Regions from separate parts of the Homo sapiens genome. Here all the other regions are linked to region 1. Evidence: fine-mapped expression QTL. A gene starts in region 1. Each other region holds a variant in brackets. All regions are shown on one strand. Distances are between the middles of the regions.

Region 1 (4,266 bases):
CAGTCAGCCAAATCCAAAAAGAGAACTCAGAAGCATCTATTCTTGTCCACTTTTTCCAAACTCACTCATCTTCCCTTAGAGTGGAGAGAGGCCAGAAGTCTTATTCTAATGGAAGTCCCTCTATATGGAAAAGAAGGCTTCTCCCTTCAATACCATAAGACAGGGTAAGGAAGAAAAAAAAGAATAATAATAATAATAATAATAATAATAATAAGAAGAAGAAGAAGAAGAAGAAGAAGGAAGGAGAAGGCTTCTCCCTTAACATTTAGGAAAACCATTGATTTTGGTGTTTATCTTATAACTGACCACCTTACCAAAGTCTCTATGATTTTTAGTTGATTTTTTTTATTTTTACTTTTTGGGAAACACTTAAATCATAAGCAAATAATGACAATTTTATCTCTTCCCTTCTAATATTTATATTTCTTATTTATTTTTCTTATCTTATTGCATTGGCTTTATTCTATAGCCATTATAGCAGGCATCCTTTTGACTGACTTACATGAGAATACCTTTAGTGTTTCACCATTAAATATGTTTGTTGATGGCTTCTGATAAACTTTGTCATGTTAAAAGTTTAAACTTTCTTCCTATAATAGTTTACTAAGAGTTTTTAGAAATTTATGGGTCATTAGTTTTGAAGTTTATAAAATACTTTTAAAGCATCTATCCCATTGATAATATCCTGTAATTTGTTTTCCTTTAACAATGCAATGCATTTACAAATTCCCTAATGTTGGATTTTTCTTGCGCCTCTGGAATAAATCTTGCTTGATCATGGTGGGTTTTCAGTTGCTTTAATAGTAAACTGGATTCAAATGGCTAAAATTGTATTTAATAGTTTTACGACTATTATATACTTAAATATATAGTGCAGATTCACATATTGAGGATTTATCAGTGAGCTTTAGAAGGTGGTCCTGGCTCAGATGAGTTTGGGAAATGCCAGGTTAAACAAACCAAACAGGTTTCTTTACTCCTGGACTTCACAGAGGCCTTCCTTAATATACGAATACTTATCGTGATTCTCCAAAAGGTACACTATAAACGGCATGCAGCACTTTCTCAAGTTGCCCACAGAAGCCCATTTTCAAAAAATAAATATTAAATTCTCTGGGGACTCGTGTTCTAGGTTAGTCATCTGCAGTTCTTTTTGGTATTGTCTGTTGGATTTTGGTATCAGGGTTATGCTAAACTTGGGAAATGAAATAAAAATTTTTGTTTCTTTTGTTTATTTTTTCCTGTGTAACAGTTTAAGTAACATAGGGATGATCTGTGCCCTGATGGGAGGATAAGGCTTGCTGTAAAGCCATCTGAACCCATGGCATTTCTGAGTAGTGAAGACACTGGGAATGCACACGTGCATGGCTTCCCTACAGGATGTTTCCCCCGACAGCCCATTCTGCTTGGCACCCTTCTCTTTAGGATCAAACAGCTATTATGGAAAAGCCTAGAATGTGTGAAAATGAGACTCAATGCATTAGCAAATCAATGCTGATCACTCCTGCATGGTCCTCAAGTCCTAACGAATGCTCCAGCCTCCTGGCAGGAAACCTTTCAAATCTTGCACACGCTGGCCTCTGCCTGGGGTGCCTGGCTGGGCGGTGTGGGGGGCATGGTTGGTTAAGGCGCAGAGTCCGCCTTTCCTACCAGCCACTCTAGCTGAGGGTCAAGCTCTGGACCCTCCCCCAACCATCCAGCTCCATTTTATCCTTGGCTTATGCCTTCCCCAAGTACTGCAGGGTAGGACTCCTGCTAAAAACTTCTTCTAGATGCTTGCCTGAGGCTGGCCCCATAAACCTGATTCTAGGCTTCTGGGGATAAATCATCTAACTAATATAAGAGAATTGCTAGGCAATTGGGGTTAGTTTGAGACGACTGGCTGAGCTCACCTTAGGTGAGCTGGGGGGTGGGGGAAGATGAGCTGAAGGATTCTAGGGTTCAGTGAAGCCTAGAATGGCTGGGTGGGCGGAGAGTCCTTAGAAGGGTCCAACTTCTAGCCTGAGGGCCTGGGGGCTTCCAGGGATCTGCAGCCGAGCGGAAGACCGGTCTTGCGTACAGCGAGGCCTACGAGAGCTAAGTGGGCTGAGGGTCCCTGGAAAAGACCAGCCTGGGGGCGGGGACCATCGATGCCCCAGGCTCTAGAGGCCGTGGGCTCCCGGGGGCCTGAGGCTGGACTGGGGTCGCCGGCGGGCTCGGGGAGGCCCGGGTGGGCGCACCGGGGCCCTGCCTGCGGCTGACGGGCTGGGTCGAGGGGGAGGCTGGGGAGGCGGGGTGCCGGCCGGGGCGGCGGCGCGGGCTCGGGACGCCAGGGCTCCCTCTCCCTCCTCCCGCCCGAGCCAGCCTCGGGCGCCGGGCGCCTCCCCCGATCCTGAACCAGCGCCAGCGCCGGGAGGCCCGGAGCCCGGCCCGCCGCCGCGGCCCGCGGAGGGAGCCGCCGCCGCCACTGCCGTTGTCGCCGCCGCCGCCAGGCCGCGCCCCGCCCCTCCGCCGCCGCCGCCGCCGCCGCCGCTCTCGGTGAGGCTCGCGCTCGAGCTGCGGCGCCGGCTCCTGCCGCCTGGGCCCCGGGCCCGGCCCCTCCCGCGCCGCCCGGGCGATGAGAAGCTGCTTCTGCGTGAGACGGAGCCGGGACCCGCCGCCGCCGCAGCCACCGCCGCCGCCGCCCCAGCGGGGAACAGTTAAGTGAGGCCCGGGCGCCGCGGAGGCTCGGCGGAGCCGGCCCTGCAGCCGGGAGGGCGGGCGGGCGGGCGCGGGCCCCCGGCCGAGGGGCGGGCGGACGGGAGGAGCCGGGCCGCGCCGAGGCCTGCGGGCTCCGTGCCCGGCCCGCGGCGGGGACAGGCCCGGGCGGCCTTTGCAGAGCCCCGAGCGCGCCGCGGCTGCCGGTGCCCGGGCTCGGCCTGGCGGCGAGAGGCGGGAGAAGCTGGGGGACCCGAGTGCCAGCAGCGCCCCCAAGGCCCGGGCAGGTGAGGGGCGCCGAGAGCCACCTCTGCCCGCGTGAGAGGGAGGCGGCCCACCTGGGCACAGACTGGGAACAGTCAATCGTTTGACCGGCCTGGCCTGGGGTCCTGCTCTCTCTGGTCACGTGGGTGCAGACCAACGTGCACCTGCCCCAGGAGCATCACTGCCTCTGTGACCTGGGCACAGCAGAGAGGACACCTAAACCCTCAGGCACCTGTCTGGAAGGTGACATGCCCAGCCTGGGTACCCGAGACCCAGAGCACCCATCCAGGAACATGGTGGGCACGTCGAGCACCCTACAGTGACTCCAACACCAGCGAGACGGGAGGAGCAGGGGCTGGGACAAGAGCTGAGGCATGGCACCAGGGGACATCACATCCTCAGAGGCAGGCACCAGGGAACGGGGTAGACCCAAGAGCATCTTTTGTCCTCTTTGTTACCAACACACAACTGTTCTAAATCAGCAGCCCTTCTCACCATGAAAGATGAGACTCTTCTGTTCCCTGCCCCTCAACACCTCTTGCACAAGGCACTGAGGAAGACCACAGGAGGGCAAAAGGCAAATGGTGGTTGCCCCTTCCCTGCTTCCTGCCCCCACCCAAGAACCAGAGCCCACTCCGATTGCTGCCACAAAAGCAGACAGCAGACCAGCTCCTCTTAGGGGCCTTTGTCTCTCGTGGTTCCTTCTCAGTATAATCTCATTGTACATTTCTCGACAGCTGGCTGGATCTCATCTCGTTTTAACAGGGCTGGGAAATCTTATCAGCGGCACCAGGAAAGCTTAGAGAGTTAAAAAATAAGCTCTGTGAAGCCTTGACTAACTGAAAAACTCAATGTGCTAGGATGTTTAGTTACAGTAGATGGTGACACCTTTCTTGCTTGTTAGAAATCATGTGGGGTCCTTGGAGATACTGTACCATGCTCAGAATCTTTAAATAGGGCCTCAGAGAGATGAGGCTTCTGCTTGGGACCCGGGCTCCAAGCCCCATGGGAAGCAGTTGACGTGGCGATTACTGGTTCATTTAAACCTAAACTTACCTTCTGTAATCCATATTTTTCATTCCTTCCTTCTAGGCTTTAGGTCACACTCCTAATTTAGGTTCAAGGCATTTTTCTTGCCCTGTCTCCATCCTGCTAGGGACCTTTTACCACTTCCAACTGGAATGTTGTGCCATGGTTATGTGCAGGGAGTTTAGAATTAGCCCTCAGCTTAAGTCTTGGCTTTCCTACTTACTTTGTGCCCTTGGACAAATTATTGAACTTTTCTGAGTTTCAGTTTCCTCATCTGTAGAGTGAAACTAATGATAG
Region 2 (4,000 bases), 66 kb after region 1:
GGTAAGATCCCACACAGCTGTTCTTTACTGAGCACTTACTGTGTGCCAGGCACTGGGCTAAGTGGATCATATGTGTTGGCACAGTGCATCCAACCCACATCCCTGTGGGGTGGGTTTCATTAACTCCCTTTTACAGTTTACCAAGACTCAGAGAAATTAAGTAACTTGCCTGAGGTCACAGTGCCAGGAAATGTTGGTGTTGGGATTTCAACCCAGATCTGTCTGACTCGTGTATTAAATGGCCGCAGTTGGTTGAAACTCAGGTTTAAAAGCACAAACAAACACACACCTCCCGTTGGTCAGCACTGGAGGTTGCTAGAGCACCAACTCCTTACTCTAAGGCTTGATAAGTAAGAGAAAAGAATCACGTGCTTATCCTTTTTTTCCTATACAAAACTTATTTCAGGGAGACCAAATAGTTGATGAAGGAAAGTTATTTTTTACATATAGAAGGATTCTAGCTAAAAAATGCAGAAGGAGGCCAGGCGCGGTGGCTCACGCCTGTAACCCCAGCACTTTGGGAGGCCAAGGAGGGTGGATCACGAGGTCAGGAGTTCAAGACCAGCCTGACCAACATGGTGAAACACCATCTCTACTAAAAATACAAAAATGAGCCAGGCATGGTAACACGCATCTCAGCTACTCAGGAGGCTGGGGCAGGAGAATCACTTGAACCCCGGAGGTGGAGGTTGCAGTGAGCCAAGATCATGCCACTGCACTCCAGCCTGGGTGACAGAGTGAGACTCCATCTCAAAAAAAAAAAAAAAAAAGAGCAGAAGGAATGACAGAGTTCAAAAATCACCATTGTGAACCTTTAATAAAACATGGATCTTAGCAACAGTCATCAGAGGGTGAGAAAGTGCTCAGAGGATGGCAGTTGGGGAACTGTGTGACCGAGGTCCTGGGCCGACGCCAGCAGAGCTCAGCAAGAATGGCCCAGCCAGACTCTGGGCCTCACTATATGACAGCCTAGACTTACGTGTACCCCGGACGGCGTGCATGCCTAAAAAACCTAACCTGAGTCTAATCGAGGCTTTAGCTCTGCCAGCCTACAGGAGGCACAGGGGAGTGACCCGATTTCTCCAACCTGTTAGTGCCCTGAAGAAAAGGGAACAGGAGTGGTTGTTCCAGAGTCAAATGATCTGGGAGGCCTGACACCCAGAGGCAGTGTTTCAGCATCCTGGGGATCCAGATGCAGACAGACTGGAGAAAACGTGGATGTAGACTCTCTGTTGGATGATACTCAGGAATTCTGTTCGTTTTGTTAGGAATGGTGATGGCATGGTGGTCTTTAAAGAACAGTGTCCTGGATGCCTACTGAGGTATTGATGGTGACATAACGTAGTGTCGTCAGGGATTCATTTTAAATATCCAGCAAAACTGCAGGGGTGGGAGGAGAGGAAACCAGCTTGTCCATTGTGCACAGCATTGACACTGGGTGACGGGAACACGTGGATTCATTCCACTGTTCTCTCTGCTTTGGGGTATGTTTGAAGATTTCTGTAATAAAAAGAAAAGAAGTCCGTGTGGTGAAATGTGTTAATGCTCAGGGCGTCAGTGTGCAGGTTTCTGATGGCTGAGCAGTGAGCAGATTGTGGTTGCGGCTCTTAGAAGCCACCCAGATTTACTGCAGGGTGTGTGGTCCCCTTCTCAGCAGGGGGTGTCTGGGTTGGGTCCCACATGCAGAGCAGGGTGACTGCAGCCCCGGGGAAGGCAGGCGGCAGAGCGCAGCCCTTCTGTCCAGCAGCTTAGGTGACCTGCCACTTCTGCTGCCAGGAATAGGGCGTGACAGGGGATGTGGTTTTCAGAATAGAGATTCTGGTATCTCTGGAAAACTCATACCTTTTCTATTGTCCTTTCCTTCAGAGGAAGTGGCTTTTAGGAAGAAGAGGCTGTGCATTAAATTTATTCCACGGGATTCAACGGAAGCTGCGATTTGTGACATTCGGATCATGGGCCGGACCAAGCAGGCCCCGCCTCAGTACACGTTTATTGGGTGAGTCTTAATAACAGGACTGTCAGCTGCTTCTCTTCCCTGAGAGCACTCAGGCCACTCCAGGCAATGAGGTCCAAGAGATTTCCATGCAGCCCCCCAGGCTCTCAGCCATGGGCCTCTGTCAGCCCAGTGCTCCTCGCTGCCCTTCCTGCTCAGCTGCGGTCTCTCTGAGCCT[C/T]GGCTCGCACTGCTGACTCCACCTTAGGGCCTTTCCTCCCCTGCCCTTCTGCGCATTCAGCCTTGAAGCTCCTCTGGGTCCTTCCCCGACACCCTGTGATGCCACTGGCCTCAGCTCTTCACACTCGTTATTCACCCTAGGAAAGGTCACAGGGACCTATTTTGTACCACGGGGCCAAGGCCACTGGATGTGGATATAAGTGAGGCAAAGGCCGTGCTGTCACAGAGCTGATGTTCTAAAAGGGACAGACGAGCAATAAACAAGAAAATAAATGAGATAATTCCAGACAGTGAAGAAAGTGAAACACAATGATGGAGTGGGGGCCTCTTCCGTGAGGGGGTCAGGAAGGTGACACTTGAGCAGAGACCTGAATGTCAGGAAACCAGCCATGCACAGATGTGAAGGCATAGTCTTTGAGGCAGAGCAGAAGCAGAAGGAGAGAAGTGGGAATGAGCATGGCACGTTCTGGGAGCAGAACACAGCCCTGTGCAGCTGGAAGAGCCAGGGACAATGTTGGGACAAGGGCGAGGGTTGGCAGGACCTCCTAGGACATGGCCTGGAGTTTATTCCAAGCACGCTAGAAAGTCAGTGGAGGGCTCCAAGTCAGGAAGAAACATAAATATTACACAGCTGCATGATAATTCCCCAGTAAGCAGAGAACTGCTGAGGCCTGGGCCCGTTTGTGTCTTGTTCCTCCAGCAGCCTCAGCACTGAGCATGGGCCTGGCTCTGTTGCAGCTCCATAAATACTTACTACAGTGAAATCCCAGGGTTTCACTTAGGGCTCTGTTGATTGTAAGTGACAGGAAACCCAACCCAGTTTGGCTTGAGCAAAAGGAATAATTTATTGGCTGGCATCACAGAGGAGTTGGGGAGGCAGGACTGGCATGCCTGGAAGCGGAAGCTTGAAGGCCGGCACTGGGTTCTGGTTTCCCTGTCTCCCCCTGGCTCCGGTGCTGGGCTCTGTTCTGACATGTTTCCCCCTCGAGGAGGCCTGGTGCTACAGTAGCTCCACCTGCTTTTCATCCAGGTTCAAGTCCAGAGGCCAAGAGCAAGTTTGTGTTCCTGACAGTTCAAAAGAAGTTCTAGAATTTAGTCTCATTGGTCTTGATTGATCTAGGTAGGGTCATGTGCACCCTGGGCTTGTCACTGTTTTCTGGAAAATTCTTCCATTGACCAGGCCTGAGCAGGAAGTAGGATCAGCTCCATTGGAACTCAAGGACAAACCACGACTGGTGCTGCTCCTAAAATATGGAGGGGCAGTCAAAAGTCAGAAAGGGGGTGAGTGGATGCCAGCTGTCCAGAAGGAAATAGATGTTCACTGTCTTCAGTCAACTGAAATCCAGGTGTGCACTTTACTCGGTGTGGCAGATGGTTTACAGCCCCCTCAGCCATGTGCGTCTTCCCTGGCCAGGGCTGGCAGGGGCCATGTGTTTCCCTGTGGGCTCCCAGAGGCACCCTGTCCTCCTCGGCTTCTGAGGCCAGCCTCCTGGCTCAGGCCTGTACTCTGCTTTACTCTTGTTCATTTGAGCCCAGAGCCGCCTTTGTATCAGCCAGGGCCTTTCTGATAGCCTAGACCCGGTGAGACAGCAGATGAGCCCTCGTGGCATTTGCTTGAAGCATGCAGGGAGCAGGTACCACAGAAATGCAGAGTTTCACCTCGGTGGGTGTTCAGCTCTGGCATCTGAATGCTCTGTGTCAAGATCATGTGGTTAAGAAGGACTCTGTGATCATTCCCTTCCTACACACTCAAAAATCCCGTTTTGCAACACGGTTTACACTAATTATGTAAACAGGACTACAGGAGTAGGAAATAGTTAGAATAAACAT
Region 3 (4,000 bases), 22 kb after region 1:
CGTGCAGAGTGAGAGCTAGAGCCTGCGCCAGGCTATTGACAATGGACATGTGAAGCAGTACGTGGATCCTGGGGCTGTGGGAGCGTGGGACGTGGGAACCCAAATATGTATTTTTGATGGCAAGAATGGGTTGAATGTTGGGAGGTGGGGGAGTAGGGAGGAAGGGGAAGGATGAGAGTGCCACAGGATGTCTTGCTGGCCATGGGTAGATGCTGGGGTTCTCTGCTGGGACAGGAGCAGAGACAGCCAGGTCGGGTGGAGGCGGGAGGGAGACTCTTGGGTCAGTTTTGAACACCTTGAGTTTGAGCTGCTTGTATGACATCTAGCGGAGCCCTGGGGCTGAAGGTCTGGAGAGAGGTCTGAGCACCATCCTCATATAGCAAGGACTGCGGGCATAAGTGGGCTTGTCTAGGGAGGGTTGTGGGACTAGAAGAGAGGGTGTGCCATTTCAGACTCCACTACCGTGGAGGGTCACTGGTTAAGGATGGGTAGAAGAGGAGGCACTCAAAAGGGGACTAAGCCTGAGCATCTGGAGAGGTAGGTGGAAAATTAAAGAAAACTAAGGGGAAAAGTGTATTTCTGTAAGAAGGAGTGGTGAGTAATGTTCAAAGTTGCCGAAGTGAAAGGAGCCTGAAGGGTGTCCATTGGGTTTAATGCAAGGAGATGGTTGTGAACTTGGTGGCAAGCTCAGAAGCAAGGTTAGAGTGGACCTGCAAGGTAAGTGGGAGGTGACAACGAGAGGTTGAGAGTGCAGATGGCCTTTGAAGAGGGGAGGCCAGGGCATAGCGGGAGCTAGAGGATGCCATGACCCCAGCTAGAGGATGCCATGACTCCCTTTGTTAAAGGTAGGAAAGTGTCGAATGTGTCTAGTTACTGATGAGAAGGAACCAAAGAAAGGGAGGGGTGTAGATACAGGAGAGAGGGGCTGGCTGATGAGGCAGGGCCCTTGAGGGGGCAGAGGAGTTGGGACCCAGAGCCCAGTCTGAGAGGGGCACCGGGTCATGTTTCTTTAGCCCTTGCCCTGTCCTGCCCCTGCACGCTGGGAAGCCAGCCTTGGGCTCGGCCTGTGCGGGCAGCACATGGGCCAGCTGCCCTGGGAGTCTCCACTTCCCCTTTTTTGCTGCTCCTGCCTCCCCCCATGTCTCTTTCTCTCAACACTATTTATTTCTGAAACTAATTAGACAAAAGAACCTTTTTTAAAAAAACAACTGGACCTGTATAATTTATATATGCCCAAAACGTAGTAGGAATTTCCTGAATACTTGGAGTTTCAAATGCTTGAATGCAAATATGCGGGACTATGGGGGTCCTAGGAGAGGTCTGCTTCTCTCTGGGCCAGTGGGCTGGGTATAGGGAACATAGGGAGGGATAAGTTTAAAATCCCAAACCTCCAAATGAGGTCCTATTCTTTTACTTACTAAAGTAAGAGAAGGAAAAAGAATCTCAATGGTGATACAAGTTCAAACAAGCTTGCATTTTTATATAGTGCTCAAGGAATTTTTAAAAATCACGTTATGAAAAACATGTGAAGATGGCAACTATATCTTGTTAAAAACATATGGCAGATATCAAGTGGAAATGTGGGACATTGGCATATCCCGTCTGAGCACAGCTGTCACATGGATTTTCAGAAAGCCGAAGCTGTGGTGGGGGGCCTTTCAGGGGGCAGGAAAATTGCCCTCGTTCTCCATGGGCTGGAGGATAGCGGCAGCCCAAAGCCTCAGGCAGTTAGTTGCCCCTCCTGGAACTCTGCCTCCATGAAGCCAATGAGGAAACAAGGGCAGCAGCTTGTTCTTGCTGTCCCAGCTTCCTGAGCACAGGGCTTTGCTATCGTGGGGCTACTAACTGCAGAAATAACCACAGACTTTGAGTCCTGCCACACAGATTGGTTTATTTTCAAAACCAGAGCTTGTTTTGATAAAAGGCACCAGGTGTTCCTCCTTTTTGTTTTGTTAGAAAATACATTAAGCTGAGATTTACTGAAATGCGGAAAGTGGTTTTTGTAACTAGCCCTGGGCCTTTGTTCCCTGTGGCCTGGATTAGCAAACCTCTTTTAAGGTCCTTCCCTCCACATTCCCCTTTGTCCTGCCGCACCCTGGCCCCAAGGGAGCAGAGCTGTGGTCTGAGAGAATGCA[C/T]GTGGCACACTTAGCACAGTGCTGGCATCCACGAGGTGTGCAGGAGGCAAACATCAGCTATCGTTAGGTGATCCTCTTAGAAATAGTGGCTTAAAGCACCTGGTTGCAGAGGAGCTGGTCTTGTTTTCTTCTAGGCTTCCCTTCCCTGCTAACCATGAATTTTTCGTTTTGACCCAAAGTTCCCGCTAATGACTTGTTCCGTAGTTGATTCATTTGGAAAGTGGTAGGGAACAGGCAGTGTTCTGGTACTTCCTTCTGTTTGCTAAAACTTCCTAATTCCCTATTTAAAAAGCCTTCTAATAATGAAACGTCAATTAATTGGATGGTTGAAAAAAGACGAGGCGCTTGCTTTAATTTTTCTTTCTTTTTTTTCAGTTAAACTTTTTATTTTGAGACAATGGTAGACTCACATGCAGTTGTAGGAAGTACTACAGAGAGATCCTGTTTACCCCCCACCAATGGTAAAGTCTTGCAGACTAGTACAATGTTACAACCAGGATACTGACATTAATACAGTACATTAATACAGAACATTTCTGTTTTAAAACGTGCCCAGGTTTTTGTTTTTATTCATATATGATGTGGCCAATAAATGAGGAGAGGATTGCCACTGGAAAGATTATTACTCGCAGTTCCCAAGAGGAGCAGACAGGCCACACCCTGTAGGGCCACCTGGGGAAGCACAGGTGGGGAAACATAGGTGGGGAAGCGTGGGGTGTGTCAGGAAGCACAGAGAGCCAGGGAGAAACGAGCCAGGAAGGGCAGTGTCAAGCAGGGTGAGCACAGTTAGGATTGATTAAGTTTGAATAATTTTGGCAGGTCCTGGGGTACATGGGTGAGTCCCTCATTGTCAGGTACCTGGCCCTGGGGTGATTTAGGGCAGGGGAATCGTGTCCTGGACTGCAAGAGCCCGTGAAAGCAGGCAGATGGAGATAAGAACTCAGTATTGGTTGGTTTGCATATCCAAGGCATGCACACAAGCAAGTCATTCACCTAGGAGGGGCAGTCCCTCCCTGCTTCTGCAAGACCTCAGGATATCAAAGCCTCATAAAATATAGAAAAAACCTGCCAAAATACAATTTCTATCACCATAAGGATCTTTCATGTTGTCGTTTTATAGCTACACTCACTTCCCTTATACTACCACCTTCTCCTTAACCCTTGATAGCCACTAATCTGTTCTCCATTTCTATAATTCTGGCATTTGAAGAATCTTATATAAACGGAATTATAGTATGTCACCTTTTGGAATTGGCTTTTAAAAAAAACTCAGCATAATTCTCCTGAGATTCATGCAGAGAGTCTATTGTGTGGGTTAATAGTTTATTTCTTTTTACTGATAAATAGTATTCCATGGTTTGGATATCCCACAATTTGTTTAACCATTTACCCATTGAAGGACATCTTGGTTGTTTTCATTCTGGAGCCATTATGAATAAAGTTGCTATAAATACTCAGGTGAAGGCTTTCATGTGGCTGTGTTTTTATTCCTCTGGGATAAATATCCAGGAATGCATTTGCTGGGTCACATGGTAGTTGCATGTTTAGTTTTTAAATAAAATGTTAAACTACTTTTTGGTGTAGCTGTAATGAATATATGAGGATCCAGTTTCTCGACATCTTTTCCAGCATTTGTTATCGTCAGTATTTTTTTGTTTTAGCCATTCTGACACGTGCATAGTGATAATTCATTTGGTTTCACACTGTATTTCCCTAGTGGTTAATGAATGATGTTGAACATCTTTTCATGTGCTTATTTGCCATCTGTATGTCTTCCATGAAAATTTCTTCATGCCCTTTACTCATTTTCTCATTGGATTGTTTGTTTTTTTTACTGTTGAGTTTTAAGAGCTCTTTGTGTATTC
Region 4 (4,000 bases), 87 kb after region 1:
AGTAGAAACGGGGTTTCACCATGTTGTTCAGGCTGGTCTTGAACTCCTGACCTCGTGATCCACCCGCCTTGGCCTCCCAAAGTGCTGTGATTACAGGCATGAGCCACCACACCCAGTTATTTCTTTTTCATGCCACTGTTTTAAAATTGAAGCATATAACCATATTGTCCTTTATGGCCTATCTTTTGATATTCAGAGCTTTTACTTTGTGATATAGGAGATTTATGTTCGTGTTTCAGTTGACTTATGGATAAATTCCTAAAGGGGAAGATACACGTTTCATTTGGTTTCTTAAACTGTCTCGGTGCCAGGCAGTGCCTAGCACACAGTAGGAGCACAATAAAAAAAGTGCGCTGAGTCAGTCGCCACATCCTAATTATAGCGGCCTTGTGTGCCTGTTGATACTGGTCCAGCTCCCCTGGCATGGGCCTGTGTTCACTGGGTAATACTTGGAATTAAGTTTTAGGTCTGGGCATAGAAGGTTTATAAGATAGTGAATATAACTGTAGAGGAAATAGGTCTCTTTTAAGTTTTACAAAACCTTACTTGTCTTGGCTTGTGTCAATTACAAAACGAAACAAAAAAGAGACTCATCAGACCGTGACAAATGATAGTAAACTTTGCGCATGGTGGTTTCTCCCTGAGGTTGGCTCCAAAATCAATATGAAAAGAAAACCACAACTGAAAATATTTTAGAGCCTAGAGTGATTAAAATAACTGACTTTCTGTTTTAGCGGAAACAAGTTACAAGAAAGAATTACAATATCTCCTCACATCTCTGGGTCTTCACAGATCTCAATCGTAATTCAGAGCCTCACTTGGGAAACACAGGGGACTTGGAGCAGGAATCCTGGCTGTGAAGTCATTGAGGAGGATTCGAGTGTTAGTCAGGCCCTTCCAGCTGAAAATGATTCATTTTAATTACCTTCCAGGGTGATCCGATACCTGAGCATATGGTCTTTAAGAAATAAGGTTCCCCAAACTGTCAGCAAGTGTGGGCAATGGTCAGGGACCTCTTTCTGACACCATTGACCAGCCTTGGAGAGCGGGCGCTCTAGAAGGTGCTTATTAAAATGCCAGCAGGTGCAGCAAAGGTCCCCTTCTCTGTGACTCCCGCACCCTGCTTGTGCCAGGTGTTTTATAAGAGCCTTTTTCTTCATTAAATGGCATTCATTAAGCACGTCCTTACACCTGGCACAGAAGCTGTGCGTCACAGATGACTTCTTCCCAGTGGTGTTTGCAGGAATAATGTGGAATTTCATTTAGCCATTTGCTGTGTTCTTCTTCCCCTTCCTATCTTAACTTGATTTTTGTTGCTTTTCATATTTCTTCTGCTGCCCCCACAATCCATTCCTCTCCTTTGTACATGACCTCTGGTCTTTGTCCACCAGCAGACACATTATATAGAAAACAAGGTGTCCCTTCAGCACCAAGCACCACCACGCTGGATGCTTTCATACGTGTGTCTCTTCTACTCTCCCAACCACATTGAGAAGTGTTCCCCTAGTTTTTGCCATCTTTTTTTCTGATTAAAAGAAATAATTTCTCATCCAAAAAAATTAACACTTAAAACATATGGAAGAGCAGTGGGGAGAATCCACACTCCCATCTTAGAGGCTTCTGTCGTCAATACCGTGAGCCTCTCCTGCCCCTCAGTCACCTCTAAGTTACTCCCTCCAGCCCTTTGCTGTACTGTAGCTTAGCCGTGTGTGCCCATGGAAAAAAGATTGTCTTATGGGATTGTTTATAATACATCATTCTGCAACTTTGTTTTTGCTTGGCTGGTTTTTTGGTTTTGTTTTACTTAACAGCCAGTCTTTGGGAGTTGGGCATTTCTACAGAAAAATCTCTGGCTCTCTTCATCTATTCGTTCTGTCCTACTTTAGTATTATATGAAAATTCCACATTTTATTAGCCTCCTCTTATTGATGGTCATTGGGCTGCTCCCAGTTCATTGCCATGACAAATGCTGCCCCAAGGCCCTGGTTCCTGTCCTTTCCTTCCACAGCTGAGATCATATTCCATACACAGATCCCGAGCATCTCACTCCAACCCTCTCCACAAAGCCTGTAAACATCATTTTATGTCTGCATAATATTCTGAGTCAGACAT[A/G]GTAACATTATTTCCAGTTTTTGAGTAGACCGTCATAATTAAGAGCATGAATTGTGTAATTGGCCCCATCAGCATTCAAATCCAAGCTTCTGCATACTCTGTGTTCAAGTCCAAGCTGTATCCAGCAGAGAGGCAAGCTGTGGAGCCTCTCTGAGACACCTGTGGAGTAGGGGGGGTCTCAGCAACTCGCCGTAGGATTGGGTTAGGGATCATAAGATGCATATGACAGGTACACGCTGTAAACAAGTCAACTGATGATATTTTTAAATTTTCTTAAATAGGTCATTTCCCACATTTCAGGTTCTTTCCTCAAATCTCAAAAAGGGAAGAATAAATGCTGGTCCTTTTGTCGCATTACTTCCCCTTTCTTAAGTATTAAATTTGAATCATCTGGAATGTATTATTAAGTGTTTCTCCTAGAGAAGGTGACATGAGTAATCTTCTGTTGTCTTCCTGCACAAAAGACAACTTGAAGTCATACAAAATTGCTGAATCACAACTATTTTCACCTTCAAAACTGGCTGCGTCGTCTTCCAGCATTTAGTATGGCAGAGGAAAAGTCTGAAGTCACCATCAGTATTTGCCAGGATGTATCCTCTTTTCATTGCATTTTCTGGAATCCTGTGAACCCCATTGGTTGTGTGTGTGTGTGTGTGTGTGTGTGTGTGTGTGTATAAGGGTTGGGAGATCAAAGTGGCAGGTGCCTCTGACTATGAGTGCGCCTCTGCCTTGCTAGTCACCACTCTCTCGACGCTGCCCTTTGACAGTCTGGGAGGACAGCAGGCACTGCAGCTGCCTGGGCAGAACCATCTTCATTATATGTGGCCACTGGGTCTACAAGATTAATGGTAACATTTTAAAAATTCACACAGACCTGGAATCAGCACTAGAAAATACAGATTTAAATTAACAAGGAAAAAGCAGAATCCCATCAAAGGAAATAAATCGTGCTGGCAACTATTGTCTCATAATAAAATATATTCTATAACTGAAGGGCTTTTATATGGAGCTGTCTGCAGCTTAGTGGCCATGTTAATTGAATAAGGTGCCTAAGACTGACTTGGGGGAAAAAATGAAATTCCCCTCAGCATGTATTTAGCTGGAGCCGTCATCGCTGGCAGTGCGTGCTTGCTGACCTGTTTGTTACAGAACAGCCAATCCCTCCTGCAGAGAGACGTGATGGCCACCAGAAGCAGCAGGGTGAGAGCCCTGTCTCCTCCGGGCAGTTCCGTGGGCAGGGGGAAGGGGAGGATAGCTTGGTAACACTCCCCGAGGATTTAGGGACTGTTCCAGTTACAATTCTCCAGTGACCAAACAGATTTTGGAATAATAATCCATCATTTGAGTCAAGTGGCAGACATGGTTGTCCTCTGATGGACAGCCCTTGCTCCAGGGGTCCAAGACCTACTGGGGAAGGTGCCAGAAGGCCTTCACCTCCTGGCACTATCCTAAGTAGAGACAGTTTCTCGAGCCTTTGAGTCTCCTTCTCCTCAGTCTGCTGGGGAGCTTTATGAACTCTCCTAAAATCTAAACTCATGGATCTGCCTACAGAGTGGTCAACTTCGGGCCCACTAAAATGACTCCACTGAAACTGCTGTCCATAAGTGCACCAGCCACCATCATTCTCGTGGACCTCTCAGGTTTTTTTTTTTAATTTTTATCTATTTATTTATTTTGAGACTGGATTATAAAACTGGCTAATTTTTGTTTGTTTGTTTGTTTGTTTTTTGGTAGAGATGGGGTTTCACCATGATGCCCAGGCTGGTCTCAAACTCCTGGGTTCAAGTGACCCACTCGCCTCGGCCTTCCAAAGTCCTGGGATTATAGGCATGAGCCCCCACTCCCAGCCGGCCTCTCGGTTTTGTTTGATGCTGTCGAGTACCTACTC
Region 5 (4,000 bases), 120 kb after region 1:
ATCTGAGACATCAGGCACCTTCCTAGAGTCTAGAAAACACTGGTGGCCGATAATGTCTGTAGCTTTTCCCTGTGCAGAATTTTATCTTCAACCCATCAAGAGTTTGTGTCCTCCTGGGGTGTTTGGGAGAGCTCAGGGATTTTGATGGGTGTTCAGCACAGTGGAAGTAGCACTACTTTCTGGGGTTTAAGCCCCATTTTGACCATTTCCAAACATGGGACCGTGATTCCTTTCTCTGGAACTCAGTTTGCCTAGCTGCAAAATGAAGCTGTTGGACAGGGTGGACCTCCTGTCCCTCTATCCTTCCACCAATCATTGAGGGCCAGGCACCCTGCAGGGGCTAGAACAGGTGCCTTGAGAGGTTTTGCCTCAGGGTAGGAGGGACTGAGGTTCCAACTGAGCATGACCCACCCGTCATTTCCGGTAAGAGCCTGATAAAAAGTTTGTTCCTAGACCAAACAGTTCATTGATATTTCTTCCTCTTTTAAAAAATAAAAAAACAGACACAAAGCTTTTCTTACCTGAATGATAAAAGTTACATGTTCATTGTAGAAAAGTTACAAAATATATGAAAACATTGGAAAGAAAATATCACAACCCCATTACCCAGAGAAACAGTATTTCAGTGTATGTCCTTTTAACACTTTTTCTATGCCATATGTTTACACTTAAAAGTGTATGTCTACCTAATTGTCCATTCTGGGTTCTTTTTAAGTCAGATTTATTGAAATATATTTACATGTAATAAAATCCAGGCTTTTTATGTGCACATTTCAGTGACTTTTGACCAATGTCAAACTACAGGATAGCCGCCTCCAGAAACAAGATACAGAATATAGCCAGGAGTCCCATAAGTTCACTTGCCTCCATTTCCGGCCCTTCCCTCCCCATCGCCAGTCCCTGGCAGTCACTTGCCTGCCCAGTGCTATCATATACATGGACTCATACAATATGTAGCTTTGTGTGTCTCTCAGCATAATATTTTTGAGAGTCTTCCATGTTATTGCATGTATCAGGAATTTGTTCCTTTCCAACACTCCAGGTGTCTATTCTGCTTTGAGACCTGTTCATGTACCTCGTTCCTTGTCATTAGGTCAGGTGGTCGTCAGGCTGGGATTAATGGTTGTATCATCCTCCCTCTTATGGATACAATGTACTTTACCTAGCCAGTCCTCAGTGGCTGAGTTTTTACATTATCTTCATTTCTAAAAGTTATACTTCGGTGAATGTTCCTTTAAATAAATATATAAACACATTTTTAATTATTTTGACATATAATGACAAATTGTCCCCCGTAATGGTTGAATTTGTTTACACTTCTGCATGTATGAAAGAGGTTTGTTTGGTTTGGTTTTCCACACAAGACTTGCTAACTGGTAATTTTTTTTTTTTAATTTTTATCAATTGGAAGGTGAAGGGGTATTTTATTGTTAATTTACATTTCTTTGATTACTGCTAAGGTTGCCTGTGTTGAGCCACTTGTGTTACTCGAGACCTTTGCCTGTCTGTCCGCAGCATCTCTTCCATTGCAGTCTTAATTTTGTTTGTGGAGTTGC[A/G]GGAGCTCCTCTTGCAACAAGGCCTTCTTTTGCTCTCACATTACTACCGCTTGTTTCCAGTTTCTGCTTTGTACTTTCATTTCATGTTTCCTTTATGTTTTGTGTCTTTGCCATCACGTTTTAGAAAAGCCTTCTCGGTTTTCTGGTATATTCTAGTACCTTCATTTTTTTTAACATTTAAATCTAAAGTTCTGCTGTGATTTGTTTTGATGTGTGACAAGATAAGAATCTATGTTTTTCCAAATTATTTATTATTGTCCCAGCATCACTTGTTAAATAATCTTCTTTTAACCAACTCATTTGGAAAACAATCCTATAATAACCTCTTACTGTGATGTATTTTGTGGCCTGTGTTGTGTTCCATTGAGTTGAATGCATATTCCAATGGGAGGGTCACGCTTTTAATAATTATAAATGTATGTATTTTAATTTCTTATCTTACTATTCTTTGTAGTTATTTTTCAGAATGTTCCAGGTAATAATAACTTTTTTACCCAGTAGAAATTTAGAATCACTTTAAGTTCCAAGGAAAATACTTTGAGGATTTTGATTGAAAAAAACATTGAAGTTATAAGTCAATTTGGGGAGAGTGGTCATTTAGAAAAATATCCAATCTTTCCTTCCAGAGATATAACTCTCTATTCAAATGTCTTTGTATATTATTCAGTAACATATTATAGTTTTCTTTGCTTTCTGTTTATATAATTCCTAAGTTTTAAATTTTGTTGCATTACCCATTATGTTGGTTTTGGTTTTTGTTTTGTTTCTTTTTGAGACAGGGACTCACTCTGTCACCCAGGCTGGAGTACAGTGGTGCGATCTCGGCTCACTGCAACCTCCGCCTCCCGGGTTCAAGCAATTCTGCCTCAGCCTCCAAAGTAGCTGGAACTACAGGCACCCACCGCCACACCTGGCTAATTTTTGTATTTTTAGTAGAGACAGGGTTTCACCATGTTGGCCAGGCTGGTCTTGAACTCCTAGCCTCAAGTGATCCTCCCCCTCGGCCTCCCAACGTGCTGGGATTACAGGCGTGAGCCACCGCACCCAGCCTGCATTGCCCATTATGTTTTCATTGGTGATTAAATATTTAATTTAATATTGTTGGGTCTTTTTTTTTCTTTTTTAGAGATGGGGGTTCTCACTGTGTTGGCCAGGGTGGTCTCAAACTCCTGGCCTCAAACAGTCCTCCCACCTCAGCCTCTCAAAGTGCTGGGATTACAGGCTTCTGCCACTCCACCTGGCCCTGTTGTTTTTTTTAATCTTCATTTGGTAACTGGCCACCTCTCTGTATGCTTGTTATTTCCAATAGCCTCCAGTTTATTTACTGGGATTTTCTTGGAAGACAACATCATCTGCAAATACAGATCATTTTGTCTCTTTGATAACATTTATACACCATTGGTTTTTCTTGCTTTGTATTTTTGGCTAAAACATTGAAAGCAGTGGCAGTAGTTTTCATTCTTACCTGGTTCCTGACTTTAATGGGAATGCTTCTAGTGTCCCATGGTTAAGTCTGATATAGATTTGGGGGAATTTGGAGGAGAGAGGGCTTGATTGTATTAAAGGACCCATTCTCTATTCCTATTTTCCAAAGATTTTTTTTTTAATAAATTCAGGCACTAATTTGAGTTTCATATAAAAAAATTTGGAATATTTTAATGTAGTATAATATTTTTTCTCACTTATTGACAGATACAGATTATTTTGTTTTGATGATTTAGCATTTAGAAAGTTATTGTTATATTTCTGAAATCAATCTTTATTATGGTGCATTCTTCTTTAAATATAGTACTAGATTTGAGCCACTGCTATTTAAGTTAGGATTTGGGCATTTATATAAGTAAGATTAGGCTTTTTGCTTATCAAAATGTAATTTTTGTGTGATCTAAGTTTTTTTCAAATATAAAAATATTTCTAAAATATTTAAATGGCTGTTCATTTTGGGGAAAAAAGAACACCAAAAAAAAAAAAAAAAAATCCTGTCTGAACTATGTGGACCTGGAAGCTAGGGGCATTTTGAGGAGATGGACAACTATTTCAGTTTCTTTCAGCATTAGTGATTTTTTTCAGGCTTTCTACTTTTTCTTGAGCCAGTTTTATCATGTGTATTTTTTTAAAGAAAATATAGCAATTTCACCTAAATTTCATCTAAATTTTAAAGTTTATTGGTACAAAATTTTACTTAAGAGTTTGTATTTATCTTAAAATTAATATACCTATAGTCATATATATCCTGATGTTATTTTTCTCTCTCTTTTTCTTGGTTGATTTATTTGCTTTATTTGTCTTTCCAAATAACTGCTTTTTAAATTTATAAAGCCATTAGACTTTTGCTTTATACTATTTAATAAATTTTTATCTGTATTAGTTCTTTTTTTTAACTTTCTTTTTTTTTTTTTTTTTTTCCTTTGAGACAATGTCTCACTCTGTTGTCCAGGCTGGAG
Region 6 (4,266 bases), 30 kb before region 1:
TTGTATCTACCATCATATAGGCCTCACGGAGATAAGAAATAAACCCGATCCTGCCATCCAGGGGTGTACTGTCCAGTAGAGGAGGAGGAAAGGGAAGGGGCAGGAGCTGGAACCAGCATTTATGGAGCGCCTGCTGTATGCCTCACAATCACCCACTGAGGGAGGTACTTCCCAGCCCATTTTATAGACAAGGAAACTGAGACTCGGGGTGAAGCCACCGGTCCACATTCTCACAAAGGGCTCCAGCCCCGGGGGCAGAAAGGTTTCAGAGTGACAGAGAGCAGCCTGAGCTCCTCCAAGGGTAATTTCAATCCTTGTCTTCAGGCCCAGCAAGGTTCTGAAGTTCCCAGAAAGGATGAGACCCTGGGGGATTGTCTGAGGGCCCAGCGCTGCCTCCCCCTCAGCTGTGATTAATGCCTGACAGTCCCTCCACTTGCAGGGAACTCATCAGACTAATATTTCCTGATGTGAACTCCGTGTCGCCCTCGAATGAGAAATCCCAGCCCCTTCACCTTCCGTGCCCCAGATGAATGGGCTCCCATCCCGAGTCCCGTGAATGATGCAGCCCACATCTGCAGAGGGAGCTCGATAAAGACCCTTTATCAGCAGAACCATGGCTCCCCATGGCCAGCCATCGGACCCCAGCTCCCCTGTCACGCTACTCCCCTGGAGCTGACCCTGGACTGCCTGCCAGAGACAGGGAGGCAAGGTCAGTGCCTAGCAGATGGGAAGAAAGGGTTCCGTAAAGGAGGGATAGGCCTTCTCCAGCCCTGCCTCCCATAGCTGGGACTCTTGAGGATCAGAGGGAAGGGGCGGGGTCTGCCAACATTTTGTGGTGAGCCCAAGGAGGGCGTGAGCATGTGGCCAGGCTAGCATCAGATGCCTGCTGAAGGCAACCTAGAACCTCCAAAGTTCTGTGGAGTGGAAATGGAGGGTGTGGAACCAAGTGGTTCTAGGAACAGAAACACCAGTGGTTGGTCTAGTGGTAAGAGAAAATAGAAACGATACCCAGTATCATGTGTTGAGTGCTCGCCATGTGCTAGGCATGGTGCCAAACATCAATATGCATTGTTGCCCCTGATCCTCACAGAGCCTCGTGTGAAAGGAGGTATGATCCCCTTTTACAGGAGAGAAAAGTGAGGCCTAGAGCAGTTAAATGATACTCTGAGTGGAGGTGTCAAGATTCAACCTTAGATTTCCCTAGCTTCCAAGCTGTGCTTTTAGCTATTCATCATGCAGACATTCAACTGCTATTTGTAAAATGCCATCTTTGTGCCTAGCATTGAGCCAAGTGCTGGGACTACACAAGGCAAACATGGTCCCTGTCCTCCTGGAGCTTGCAGTCCTGTGGGGAGCTGACCTCCCACAAGGGGACTGTGGTGCTTCAGTGAGAATGTGGGTGAGGCCTGGGTGCTCAAGGAGAGTCTCGCCAAGGAGAGGGAAGCACCTTATCTTGCCCTTAGCACAGTGCTTCCTAGGGAGAAGCCAGTCCAACCCCTAGTGTGGGTCCTGAGAACAAGTCCTCCTTGAGGTGGCCAAAGGTGGAAAGAATCCAGGGCTGAAAGTCAAAGCACTGAAGGCCAAAGCCAGGAAAAAGAGAGCAGCCATCCTGCCCAGCAGGTGCCCATGGGCTGATGGCAGAAGTGGAGTTGGAATGTGGATGGGACAGAATCAACCAGAAGGAAACCAGGGGTCTCCTGCTCGAAGGGGGCGGCCAGAGCTGTGTGGACCCTGGCTGTGGGGCAGCTTGGGCTGGCCTCCAGATGGAGACGGAGAAGATGGATGTCCACACCCGAAAGGGATCTCCCCGCTGAGGGTGCCCCCCGCCCCGACCACAGGATATACTTGGAGTCAGGTACACAGCAGGTGATCCATCTGTGGGAGGCCCCGAGCCA[G/A]AGGCTCAGGGAGCAGGTGTGACTCAGGGGTGAGCTGGCATGCGTGATGAAGGCGGCTCAAGCCCCAGACAAGCAGCGTGGGTTCCAGCTCAAGCTCCAGGCCCTGCAGGAAGAGGGACAAGGGTAAGAGCCAGATCTAAGCAGACCCACAGCCAGAGCGGAGGGTGCTAAGAGTAACATTGAAGGTCACCTGCCGATGGTGCTGTGGCCAAGCGGCCACTCTCCAGTCAGTAAGGGTGGGCCTGGGGCTCCCACTGGGAAAGGCAGGGTAGGCAGAGCCACCCACCCACGCCTGGGGCTGCCAGGAGCTGGAAGTATGGGGTGGGAAGAGCCTAAGCCCTGGCTGCAGAAAAGCTCGTCTCTCCCCTGCATTTTACCTGTAGTTTGGCTCTAGGACCTCATCGTGTGCAGTTTCCTGTATTGTAAAGGATGGACACATCATGCCCTCTGACCTGCTCCCTCCCTGAGCCCCACCTGCGCAAGGCTCCACCCTGTTTCTGAAGCTGCCTTGAACCTGACCCTCAATTCATCCTTGACCCTTACCCTGTCCCTGACCCCATTCCTGAGCCTCACTCCATCCTGAAATTTCTTCCATCTCTGGGCTTCAGCCCCTCCCTGTCTTTTCACCCCTTCCTCAGTCCACTCCAGTTCTAAGCCTCTCTCCTCCCACATCTGGTTACCCCATTTCTGACTCCCGCTCCAACCCTGCCATCCCACACCCTACCCCAGATCCTTCCCCATCCTTCCCGCCCACACTGCCTCTGGAATGGGGTTGGGATTCAGCAAGGCTCTGGGAAGAGAGAGGAAGGTATCTGTTGTTCATATTCCTTATAAATTATTTCAAAGCTGACCGGGCGCGGTGGCTCGTGCCTATAATCCCAGCACTTTGGGAGGCTGAGGCAGGCACTTGAGGTCAGAAGTTCGAGACCAACCTGGTCAACATGGTGAAACCCTGTCTCTATTAAAAATACAAAAATTAGCCGGACCAGGTGGTGGGGCCTGTAATCCCAGCTACTCGGGAGGCTGAGGCGGGAGAATCACTTGAACCTGGGAGTTGGAGATTGCAGTGAGCCAAGATCGTGCCACTGCACTCCAGCCTGGGCGACAGAGTAAGACCCTGTCTCAAAAAATAATAATAATGATTATTTCAAAGCTGAGAGGTTCCTGTTTTCTTTGGGTGGGGGGGGGCAAAAAAAAACAGGTGGGAATTTCAAAATCCACTTTATAAAACAGGTGGGAATTTCAAAATGACCTCATTAAAATGCCAGATATAGTATCAATCCATAGCTTGAGACACCAGAATAGTGGTCCCCCTTGTGCGAGGAGGGAGGATTGAGACTGGAGCAGGACACAGAGGGAGGGGGACTTCTGGGGGCGAGTGATGTGGTTTCTGGAGTTGGATGTTGGAAACACAGGTGTATTCGGTTGGTAAGATTCATCAAGCAATATATTTATTATTTGTGCACTTTTCGGTATCTATGCTATACTTCAATAAAAAGTTTTTCTGTAATGCTCTGTAGCCTGGGCAGATTGGACCCTCAGGGCAACAGAGCTGGCTGCTGGGTCCCTGTAGCAGTGGGGTCATGCCACGCTGGGGGCACGCCACCCTGGGGGCCTTCGGAAAAGCAGAGTCTGGTTCTCTGCTCCCAGGACGGTTTCATCCCAACGGGATGCTGACGAGGAGCCCCCACCCGCCCTCTGCTCAGCCACACACCCCATTGTCCTCTGGGACCTTGCCTTGGTGCCAGCTGCCTTTCCTACCCTAACAGCTGTATTTTTCAGGTACAATATGACAGGCTCAATCTATTCCTGTTATATATTTCCCAGTAAATGGACAAGGTGAAAACAGTGTCAGTTCAAATCACTATCATGACACTTAATTCTGATTTACTGTACCTTTTGCTGCAATCTTGAAAGTGCCTGCATCTGTGGTGAGCTGGATCGCCCAGCCAGGCCCCACGGGGTCGACGTTAAGATCAGCTTCAATAAAAGAATTTAGGGTAAGGCAGCCCCAGGTGGGTGGGGGGCAAGCTGGGGCCCAGAGGACCAGCCAGCGGAGACGCTGAAGCTGCTGCTCTTCCACACCTCCCTCCCTCGACTCTTTGTCCCCAGCCCTGTGTTTGCAGCAGCTGGGAAATTTATGGAGGCTCCATAAACGGGTTTTACAGACAGCTGTTAGAGCGTGCGGAGCAAGGCTTGGCTGTCGGGGGACCCAGTCGCAGGCTTACAGCCAAGACACTTAAATATTATGGCCCCACATATATAAAAAGTGTGCTGCGCACATCCTCAGCTGCCTCCCTCCTCCTGACCCAGGAGCACGGGGTCTGGCCAGAGAATAGCAATGCTCGCAGTTGCTGGCTCGGCAGAGACA
Region 7 (4,000 bases), 130 kb after region 1:
TGAGGTTTAATTTTTAAAAGCTCTGGACTCAAGTCCCAGCTCTGCCCCCGAGACAAGCCCCTCACCTTCTTTGAGCTTCAAGTCAGTCTTCTATCAAGAGGGGCTGAAAATGCCTGCCTCCCGGGATTGTGGTAAAGACTAATTAAGAGAAGACTTGCTGAAAGTGCTTTGTCAGCTGTGAAATATGTGAGAAAGATAAAATCCCTATTTCTTCAAGTTCAGCGGGTTTTTAGTGAGCATCTATTTTTGCCAGAAAACCCCACAGACGTGCCACCTCCCCGTGAGCATCCCCACCCACCCCAGTGCATTGTCAAGGACACATGAACTTGTCAACTGGGTGAGCAAGCAGGGGAGGGGTGAAAGGTCCAGCTGCAAGCAGGGAAGCAGCTGAGCACCCGGAGCAGACCAGGGCCTGGCTGGGCAGAAGGGACTCCCAGAGCTCAGGAGTGTTGCTGTTTGCCCCTTCTCCCTTCTCAAGTATGGAGTTTTGTTTTCATACCTGAGGTTGGAGGTCCTAGTGACTTCTTTCTGCCTGTGTGGGCTGTAGAGGAATCCGTTGCCAACAGCAGTGGCCTGTGTATCACCGGCTGCTTCCTGGAAGAGGTGTTCATTACACAGGCTCAGCCTCTGCTTGCCCATGAGGCTCTTGCGGTTTCTTTCTTCTCACTATGCCCCTTCTCACATGTGCATAACTCGTACATGGACACAATCTCACATGCGTTACGTGGCACATGCATACACTCACGTGTGGCACACTCTCACGTGTACATACATACCGTGTGCATGGTCTTGCATGTGACACACAGCCTCACATGCATATGTGCACACATGACACGTGTGCATGCTCACATGTGTGCACACATGACATATACACAGGTGGCCTCCCCTCCTCTCTGGATCATCAAGGATACCATCCAGATTACCTTCCAGGGCTGGGACAAGGGCTCACCAGGCCCCAACAGGGCAAAAGACAATGAGAGAGGCAAGATGGAAGTCTGGTGTCCCATCAGGGAAAGTCTAAGTGAGAAACAGACGCGGTAAAGCAGAGAGCACCGGGAGACAGGAGAGGCATGGACCTCAGAGTCAGTGCCACCACCACCTGCTAGCACCTCCCTTTGGTCCCTTCAGCATTTTAAAACCTGCTTTCTGTACTGAGAAATAGGCTTTCTTCTTTTATTTTCAAACTTCAAAGATCAGTTTTGAAATAAAGTTTTTTCTGATGGAATTCCAAAGGTTTTACACATGTGTGAAAGGAGAAGTTTGGCTGTTAAAATGTGTTCACCCTGCCCCTTGCTGCCCTGACCCACCAGGGTCCCACCGTGCCTCCACTTTGTTCTCCTAAATGCTGCACCAGCTCACAACCACCAATAGTGTGTTGTTCCAGCCTCTTTCCTTCATCCCCCTAATTCATTTGTGTTCAGCTAGAGCCTAGTGGGGCAGAATTGATTTTTTTGTTAATGGGAAGAAATGTTTCCTGTGTAGGCATTGTTTACCACTCTGCAGCTAATCCCATTGAGCCTCGGGCTCAGTAAGCGGGACACCCAGGTGGCCTGGGGCTGGGCGAGTAGAAAGGTGGCCCCTGGTCTTAGCCAAAGGAGTGCCCTATTCAAGC[A/T]TCAGGATACATTTGCAGTGGCCAGGGGTATGGACCTTGCATTTTTTAACCCCTGCATGGCTTTAGCCCCATAAAGACCCAACTAAATAAGTGAGATGGAAGTGAATGTTTTCCTCTTCTTTTTCATTTTACTTTTGTTAAGCACTGCATAATGTGCATGCCACGTAATACAGTGAATAGCCTTCTGGTAGGGGTCGATGACCATAATTGAGTTTTTTTTTTTTTAACCAGCCAGGAAAATGCTTCCTTAATCAATGTTCTTTAAATGCTTTGACACATGGTAACAACACACCACAGAGATGCACGTGCCGCTCTCCACCAGACTCCACTGATAGGAATACTGGGCAGCCCTTTCTTCCCTTCCCTCCTGTGAGCCTGTGGGTGCGCAGGGCAGCCACTCCGGGGATGAGCGAGCATGCACCATGATGGCGATTCCAGGAAGGATCTTGAACCACGTCCTGGCAGGGCTACCTGGGCCAAAACCCTATTTCTAGGCCCCTTAAAGGTGAGCGGGCTTCAGCTCTCTCCCCAGTAAGACCCACAGCTCCCAGTAAGACCCTGCGAGCTGGCTAGAGGTGAATTTATTTTATTTTATTTTATTTTTTATTTTATTTTATTTTATTTTATTTTAGATGGAGTCTTGTTCTGTCGCCCAGGCTGGAGTGCAGTGGCGTGATCTCAGCTCCCTGCCACCTCCGCCTCCCGGGTTCAAGTGATTCTCCTGCCTCAGCCTCCCGAGTAGATGGGACAACAGGCACGTGCCACCACGCCCAGCTAATTTTTGTATTTTTAGTAGAGACGGGGTTTCACCATGTTGGCCAGGATGGTCTCGATCGATTTACCTCGTGATCCACCCACCTCGGCCTCCCAAAGTGCTGGGATTACAGGTGTGAGCCACCGTGCCTGGCCCTTATTTTATTTATTTTGAGACAGGGTCTTTCTCTGTTGCCCAGGTTGGAGTGCAGTGGCAAGATCATCACTCACTGCAGCCTCGACTTCCCAGGCTCAGGTGATCCTCCCACCCCAGCCTCCTGAGAAACTGGAACCACAGGCGTGTGCCACCATGCCCAGCTGATTTTTTTGATATTTTATAGAGATGGGGTCTTGCCATGTTGCCTAGGCTGGCCTTGAACTCCTGGGCTCAAGTGATCCAGCTGCCTCAGCCTCCCAATGTGCTGGAATTGCAGGCGTGCAAACCACTAAGCCTGACTGAAGTGGGTATTTGAGCCTCTAATGCTCCCTGTTACAGTTTTGCTGTCGTGGTGGTTCTAAGACAATAAACTTTGATAGGTCGTTTTCTTTCTTTCTTTCTTTTTTTTTTTTTTTTTTTTTGAGACGGAGTCTTGCTCTTTTGCCCAGGCTGGAATGCAATGGTGTGATATCGGCTCACTGCAAACTCCACCTCCCAGATTCAAGCAGTTTTCCTGCCACAGCCTCCCAAGTAGCTGGGATCACAGGTACCCGCCACCATGCCCAGCTAATTTTGTATTTTTAGTAGAGACGGGGTTTCACCATGTTGGACCTGGCTGGTCTCAAACTCCTGACCTTAGGTGATCCGCCCACCTTGGCCTTCCAAAGTGCTGGGATTGCAGGCATGAGCCACCACGCCCCGCCTGATAGGTTATCTTGAACATCTCTTCCCAATACAGTAATTAGACCTTAAATGTTTTTGTTGGATACTTACCTCCAAGATATTCCCAAATCTCCAAATTTAAAAATAGCTCTTTCGCACACGATTTCTCCCACAGAATGTAGTAATGTAGATATGAAACATTCAGGTGAACTTGTTAGAACTAATGGTTCTATAAATAAAAACTGACATCATTCATAAAGTTATTTAAATAAATTTTGTCACTAAAATAAATTTATATGTTACATCATTGCTAATAATGATTTTAACTGTGAGTTTTCTTTTTGTAAAAAAGAATTGAGCCAAGCCCCAGGGTTTTTCTAACAAGCTGACGGGATACTTGGCTGGGGTTCTCATCCTGCCCCTCCCTGCTTCCAGCTCAGATACTCGGAATATGGTTGAAGCCTGACTGAATCATAAAGACTGCCTGAGAGTGGGAGAGGAAAGGATCAGTTACTCTTTGGCCACCTTGAACGCGCAGCTTCCTTTTCCTCCTGGGATATGGGGTCTGAGGCATCTCCTTCCTAGAGGCCATGTCCATCTGCATTGCAGGGTGTTCTGTGCAAGAGCCATGCTCCCCTCGAGTTTCTTCAGCTGATCTAGTAATTACTTCACCAGCAGCAGGCTGCTGATAGCGCCCCTGTTTAACTTCAGTTTATAAAAGAAAAAGTAAGCGTCTTACAATTCTGGAACCTCCTTTCCTCTTGGGAGTCTACGTATGGGCCCCGGCTTCGTCCTGAAGCAGTGTCAAGAGTCCT

The links.
Region 2: its variant is fine-mapped to the expression of MVB12B in whole blood (TOPMed, PIP 0.98).
Region 3: its variant is fine-mapped to the expression of MVB12B in lung (TOPMed, PIP above 0.99).
Region 4: its variant is fine-mapped to the expression of MVB12B in esophagus mucosa (GTEx, PIP 0.98).
Region 5: its variant is fine-mapped to the expression of MVB12B in blood mononuclear cells (TOPMed, PIP above 0.99). The same link has a PIP of 0.9 or more in whole blood.
Region 6: its variant is fine-mapped to the expression of MVB12B in whole blood (INTERVAL, PIP above 0.99).
Region 7: its variant is fine-mapped to the expression of MVB12B in whole blood (INTERVAL, PIP above 0.99). The same link has a PIP of 0.9 or more in monocytes after LPS.

What each region holds. Positions count from the first base shown.
Region 1 is chr9:126,324,334-126,328,599 of GRCh38, forward strand. MVB12B (multivesicular body subunit 12B) reads left to right here and starts at 2,496. Exons shown (of 10, transcript NM_033446.3): 1 at 2,496-2,677. The coding sequence starts at 2,597. RefSeq lists a silencer at 2,481-2,620 and an enhancer at 3,062-3,713.
Region 2 is chr9:126,390,200-126,394,199 of GRCh38, forward strand. It overlaps MVB12B (multivesicular body subunit 12B), which reads left to right. Exons shown (of 10, transcript NM_033446.3): 5 at 1,867-1,996. Among named protein-coding and RNA genes, the nearest start is that of NRON, 18 kb to the right of the region's middle. The variant C/T (reference allele first, on the strand shown) is at 2,172.
Region 3 is chr9:126,346,230-126,350,229 of GRCh38, forward strand. The region is part of intron 2 of MVB12B (multivesicular body subunit 12B); the gene reads left to right. Among named protein-coding and RNA genes, the nearest start is that of MVB12B, 21 kb to the left of the region's middle. RefSeq lists an enhancer at 512-1,472. The variant C/T (reference allele first, on the strand shown) is at 2,136.
Region 4 is chr9:126,411,069-126,415,068 of GRCh38, forward strand. The region is part of intron 6 of MVB12B (multivesicular body subunit 12B); the gene reads left to right. Among named protein-coding and RNA genes, the nearest start is that of NRON, 2.6 kb to the left of the region's middle. The variant A/G (reference allele first, on the strand shown) is at 2,113.
Region 5 is chr9:126,442,997-126,446,996 of GRCh38, forward strand. All of the region lies in intron 7 of MVB12B (multivesicular body subunit 12B), which reads left to right. Among named protein-coding and RNA genes, the nearest start is that of NRON, 34 kb to the left of the region's middle. The variant A/G (reference allele first, on the strand shown) is at 1,557.
Region 6 is chr9:126,294,273-126,298,538 of GRCh38, forward strand. No RefSeq gene overlaps it. Among named protein-coding and RNA genes, the nearest start is that of MVB12B, 30 kb to the right of the region's middle. The variant G/A (reference allele first, on the strand shown) is at 1,896.
Region 7 is chr9:126,452,965-126,456,964 of GRCh38, forward strand. The region is part of intron 7 of MVB12B (multivesicular body subunit 12B); the gene reads left to right. Among named protein-coding and RNA genes, the nearest start is that of NRON, 44 kb to the left of the region's middle. The variant A/T (reference allele first, on the strand shown) is at 1,613.